2 linked regions of the Homo sapiens genome follow. The protein of the gene in region 1 purifies or fractionates together with the protein of each later gene. This does not show direct contact. Each region holds a gene or a part of one and is shown on either strand. Other genes may lie near its edges.

Region 1 (2,630 bases):
TCACAGAAAGATGGCACCACCTCCTCAGGCAGGAGGCCCCTAAGGCCGGGGTCAGAGCAAAAACACCCCTTCCTTCTGGGTTTCTTTTGTTAAGAACAGAAGGAGGGGGATTCTAGGGGAAGGCCGTGTAGCCCCTGCCCAGATCTGTTTGCGGATACCTCTGTGACCTCTGCTAAAGGGTGCAGCAGGGCAGGTGGCGGGTCACAGTTCTGAGAAGGTAACATACAAAGAGATCTTCCCTTAAAGATGTAGGAAGATAAGGAGGGGGGGAGTTGCTGGGGAAAGCCCCTTCTCCCATAGCCCCTGTGGGCCCTCATAGAAATGCAGGTTGGATTGTGGTGCAGCCAGGCAGCCTGTCCCCTCGAGGACAGGACCCTGGGGAGGGCCCCCGGGGCAGGCAGGGTGTCTGCACATACGCACACACTCTCTCATACACAACACATGCCTGTATGTGTGCACAGGCCTAGCTATGGAGTAGGAAACGAACTCAGACGCCATTCTCATTTGGACAAGCTTAAAACACGATGTGGCTCGTTTTTATTTTATCTCAGAAAAAAACATTCCCTTTAGAAGGAAAGGCAGTTAGACAAGGCCTCTCACTGGGTAGCTCTGCGCTACTCAGCACATGCCAGTGGCCTGCCAGCCCCAACCTCTCCCCTGGGACCTGGGCCCATGCTCTGGCACTGCTCTGTTACAACTCCCTGTCCTTGATCCCAGCTTTGTCACTCCAAGAGATGGCCCTGGGACTGAGAAGTGGATGGCAGCTGTGACAGCAGGAGAGGACTGCCTGAGGCTCCCCGGGCAGAGGCTCTGGTGCCAGGTTAGCAGCAGGACCGACGGCAGACCCAGCAGCCAGAGAGTGAAAGGTAATAAAATAAAAAGGGTTTCCTCACACTTACATTTTTCCTGGAAAAAAGTCAAATGTCACCTCTGGGCCCAGCAGCTCCTGAACCCTAGGAGAGTCTAGGGAGAGTGGTGTGTGGGTGGCAGGAGGCTGTTGGAGCCACTCCCCAGTCTCAGGGCCAGGCCAGTCTGCTGTGCCCAAGCTGCTCTGTGGAGACAAGGTGGTGCTTCCAGATGCTTCTGCAGTGGAGGGCTGGGCCCTGCCCAGCAAAGATGCTGCTGGTGCTGTGGCCCCCACCTGGTGCAAGGCCTCACAGCATGAAACATCTGCTTCCTCAGAACCCAAGCCCTTCTTGCTGGGCCTCATGCTGCTCCAGCCTGGGGCTCCCTTCTCTCAGTCCAAAGTAGGAACCGGCTGCCCTCAGGGTCTCCTGGCACTCTCTCTCTTCTCCCAACGTGACTGGTCAAGCCAACCAGAAAGATAAAGATCTCCTTCCCTTAGGAAGGGGCAAACTCCATGAATCATCAGGACACTCCTGCTCCATCCTGGGCCAGGGGGTCATCTAGGCCAGGGGGCTCTGGGCACACTCCCTTGAGCTCATGGCTAAGGAGCTCCACGTCTGGGAGGCCCGTGTTCCCCTGGGACTCTTGGGCACTCCCTCCACTCACCAGCCCCAGGGCATAGCCATTGGGCCTCCGCTCAGGGTGGGGAGCACTGCCGTTGGCCCACACTCCTGGCGGGTGGCCGTTGAGACGGAGGCTGACCTGCTCTCCGTCACTGCCATGAGCTGCCAAGACCCGGGCACTGGTGCCAGCTGCCTTGAAAGGTTCTTGCTGCCTCAGGACGTGGCTGCGAATGATCTTGCGGAAGGTCTGGCGGAACTCGCGGATACGGTAGGCGTAGATGAAGGGATTCACAACCGAATTGGTGTGGGAGAGGACGATGGCCAGGTACATGAGCCAGAGAGGGGCGTGGCTGCAGTCGGGGCAGAAGAAAGTGAAGCAGTTGATGATGTGTAGGGGCAGCCAGCAGAGGGCAAAGAGCCCCACAATGATGGCCAGTGACTTGGCAGCATGGACCTCCTTCTGCAGTGTGGACCGTGCCCGCTCCCCCGGCAGAGGCTGGCTCTCCATCTGCTTCAGCTGTCGTCGCGCCGCCAGGAAGATCCGCAAATAGACACCCAGCATGAGCAGCAGGGGCACCAGCACACAGGCAAAGAAGTTGAAGTACACCATGTAGTTCATGGGGACCACATCCTCAAAGAGACAGGCCACTTGGCCCTCCCCGCAGCCCTGGGAGTGGTTCTTGCCCTCCTTTGGCTGACCGCAGTTGTTCCAACCTAGCATGGGAGTCAGGCCGATGGCAAACGACAGCACCCAGCAGATGGCAATGATGCCCTTAGCCCTCGTGCCGGTCACCAAGCCATTGTACCTGGGGAGAAGAGACCAGCATCAGAGATCTGAGAAGCCAGGGTTAAGCAGGGCCAAGAGTTCAGAACCCCAGAGCAGCACCCGTTTCCACATTTCCTGACTGTAAGGTCTTGGACCAGTCATTTCCTGCCACCTCGCCCCAGCATCCTCTTCCGTTAAGTGGAAGTAATATGCCTTGCCTTTTTCACAGGCTTCTGGGAGGTAACAGGAGAGCAGGCATCCAAGAAATGGAAACCCATGTACAAATGCCCAGATGGTCATTGAGTAGTTTTCGGAGTAGTCCTGGGACTTAGTTTGGTTGGAGGAAATTAACGCATGATTTTTTGAGGGGGAAAACATGATTTTTCTCTAAAGGG
Region 2 (3,500 bases), on another chromosome or scaffold:
ACCTAAGATGATCTTGGAAATTATAATCATTACCTAGTAGAATGTCTCACTTATTTTAATAGCTAAATGATAATGCATTGTTTGAATACATCATAACTTATTTTATTAGGTTATTAGATTGTTATTGGGGTAAATTTAGGATAAAACAACAGTTTAAACTAGTAAAAGCCAAAGGTCATGACTAAGAGTTTCACTTGGGGCACAATTGAATTAGCACTTGCCACACCGTGACCAAGCACTGATCTTCTGAAGCTAGAAGGGAGTCCCTAATAAAATGCATGATTTATTTGATGCAAACCAAAACATACCTTTACAATTGGCCTTTTCAAGCACATTTTTACTTTCTCACCTAGTCATATTTTCTTATGCTTTTCACTGAAAGCCATCCCTGCTAATTTTCACCAATTGTCAGTATTCTTCTTGTTAAATTTCAATTGTCAAATTCCATTTCCTTCTGTAAGATTCCCACCATGACCCCCATAACCACAGAGGAGGAGGTGATTTTTTTCTCCATCAATTTCCTTTAGAGTCAGATTTGTAACATTGTGTCATTTTGAATTATGATTATGTAAGTATTTGTGCATGCCTCATCTCCTTTGCCAGATTGCAATCCCACTGAAGTCTGTGATATAGAAAACAAAGGGCTATCATTCACAGGACGGTCAGAGAGCCTTGCATATGTATTTGTGCATAATATGTGTTGCATAAATATATTCCTAACCTCTGAAGTGGGGTTAGTAACTTAATTCCACATTTTACCAGACCGAAATATTTGGACTATATTGATATGTTAATGCAGAATTTTAAGAATCTCAACAAATACAATAATTCGATGATTTATAAAAAGTATTTTGTATCTTCTTCAGTATTCTATAGTGTTTAATATACACATTTTTTTTTTTCTAGAAGAAGAGCTGCATAACAAGCGAGTCTGCCCATTTGGGTCACAACCTCTGTAGGTCAAAACAAATTTTTTCCAAACAGCCATGGTCAAGAACTAATGATTTTTAAAACACCATAAAAAACAAAGGGCTACTTATTATTAACTATTATAAAACATCAGTCAGATTTTTCTTTCCTCACTATTCTTGGAGCACAAAGAAGCAATAAATTTTAAAACAAACATGTTGAATTATTTAAAATTATACTTCTCAAATATGTTCTATACAAGGATAAAATTAATTTATTCTTATCTCCATTTTGGATTTGACCATGAATTCTTCTGAAAAAATAGCTGTAAGACCAAACTTTTTGGTAATTCTCTATAACAACACACCTAGGTTAGAACTGGCTACTACCTTCAATCCTATGTGTATTTATGTGTACCTTGCTTTAACTATTAGAAACAATAGGCACCTAGAACAATCGCGAAATGACAAAAATATGAGGTGTTCAATGAAGATATAGAGACTTGAAAACCTCTAGTAATGAATATAAAAAATCATTAGAGTAGAAGTATAATATAGCATCAGTATAGCAGAAGTAAATAATGTAATTCACAATGAAAACAAAATTATATTTCACCAAATATTGGCCACATACACCCTTCTGTAGTTTAAGTCTTTGTCTCTCTAGATATATGCCATCCAGTCTGTTCTTATAGTACTGGTATAACTCGGACAATTCAAAATATCCAAAATAATTAGGAATAGTTTACTCTTCCCAAACCTGAAATTGTAACTGTTGAGTGCATAATAATATATACTCGATGTATGCAAAGGAAACTTACCTTCTGTGTGCACGGCTGATACATAGGTCCAGTTGTACCTCTTCACTATGTCCACCATGGCCCTTGCCTGCTGAGCATCTGAAGGCACAACCCTCATGAAATATTTGAACAGAGTCTTGTCACTCAGATCCATGCTGGTTGCTGAGTAAGCAATCTGAGGTATGTTGAAAAGCTGGAGCAAATTCTGGACCTGAATGGCTACAGAACTGGAGCCAGGCCCAATGACCCCTACTATGGGCTTCTTGGAGCGGAAGGAAGAGGAGGAGCCATCCACACAGCGTACCAAGCCTTCTTCCTCTTCTGAAGAAATGAGGGAATCTCTTATGAACTCAATGCTCTGCTCTAGGGCCACAGCCGAATGCCAGCAGGAGTCCCTTATCTCACAGCCCAGTGTGATGTTGGGCAAGAGTGTGGGGTCTGAATTGATCCTTTCCAGGGTATGCAGCATGGCCTCCACTCTCTGAATGCCATACTGTTCACGGACCGCCCCACACTTCCTCTCATGAACTTTGTCCACAGTAGGCTGGTGATGAACAGAAAAGAGAGCTCCAATAATGATGTCACCCGGCATGTGAGCCACCACCCTCCTCTCACTGGACTGTGCACTCCCACGGACATCTTCTTTCAAAAGTAAGACTGACAGGATCAACAGAAGGACCATTTTAGGAAAGGAGTTCAAGCCAATAAAGATAGCATGGTGGGGAAAATTCAGGAGGGTTCTGATAGCTACGAACAAGCGATGTCCTACGTTGAGTCGCAAATCAAGAAATTAGCCAGCAATTCAGATGTATTTTCTAAAGGACCATTTTGTCCCCATGTACCATTTAGTTAGATGATCCATGTGGTCATGATCTTCTAAACCTGAAAAAAAAAAAATAACATGGGTCTTTAACAAACATAAATGCAACTAGTTTGGGGAAGTTCTATAATCCATGTTAGCAGAGAAAATATTTTGATGATGCAGATAACGAAGAAAAAAAATTCAAAAACGTTTCTGACTTTCCTTTGTCTGCTTCCTTTGTGATTTGATGAAGCAGCTGATGTAGCTTCTTGACCCTGCCTTGCTTAGATTAATAGTCTTTTTTTGTTCACCTGCAATACACAAAACTAAATCTTGAGTGTGGCAGGCAGAACTGTATTGTAATCTCAGGCAGAGATGACAGAGCATCCTAGAAGCAAAACTACGCCATGAACAGAAAACTTCAAGAAGTATGCACCCCAGAATATTAAACATTGGTGATCTCTTGGTAATGAAAGTGTGGATAACTGTTGTTAAATTTTCATTAGGCTTTCTTTTCTTTTGAAATCTTTAGCCTTGAGCATGTAATTAATTATGCAATTACAAAAATAAAATTATCTTTTCAAAAATACCTCACATATTCTCTCTCCAAATACAATGTCAAGCAAGTTGAATAATCTTCTCAGGAATAAATAAGTATTGTCTAATTAATGTGGAAGATATAATAAAAACAAATGAAGAAAGGTGGGTGTTTCATGTTAAATAAACTGTAGAAGAGAAAGGAAAAGGTTGGGGAATTATAGAGTACAACATCCCCCAAATAGGCTGCAAGGAAGAGTCAAATTAGCACCAATTTTTAGAGAAAAGAATATTCACATTTCAATCCCTGTTCTTATATTAAGAAGTATTAGTAAACTGTTTAACCTCTTGGTACCAGAATTTGCTCACCTGAAAAATGGGGATACTATGTGCTAGGCTGTCCCTTATGGGAATCAATACAAGATATCAACGAAATAAACGCTTTACAAGTTA

The links. Proteins that work in one complex are often made in the same cells at the same time.
Region 2: the proteins of ADORA2A (region 1) and GRM5 purify together in Homo sapiens (affinity purification with western blotting; one study listed by BioGRID). This does not show direct contact.

What each region holds. Positions count from the first base shown.
Region 1 is NC_000022.11:24,440,228-24,442,857, reverse strand, and holds the end of ADORA2A (adenosine receptor A2a), read right to left. Parts: intron 2,276-2,630; coding exon 1,369-2,275; 3' UTR 501-1,368; downstream 1-500. UniProt on the Homo sapiens protein: Receptor for adenosine. The activity of this receptor is mediated by G proteins which activate adenylyl cyclase.
Region 2 is NC_000011.10:89,045,483-89,048,982, forward strand, and holds part of GRM5 (metabotropic glutamate receptor 5 isoform a precursor), read right to left. Parts: intron 2,591-3,500; 5' UTR 2,391-2,590; coding exon 1,730-2,390; intron 1-1,729. UniProt on the Homo sapiens protein: G-protein coupled receptor for glutamate. Ligand binding causes a conformation change that triggers signaling via guanine nucleotide-binding proteins (G proteins) and modulates the activity of down-stream effectors.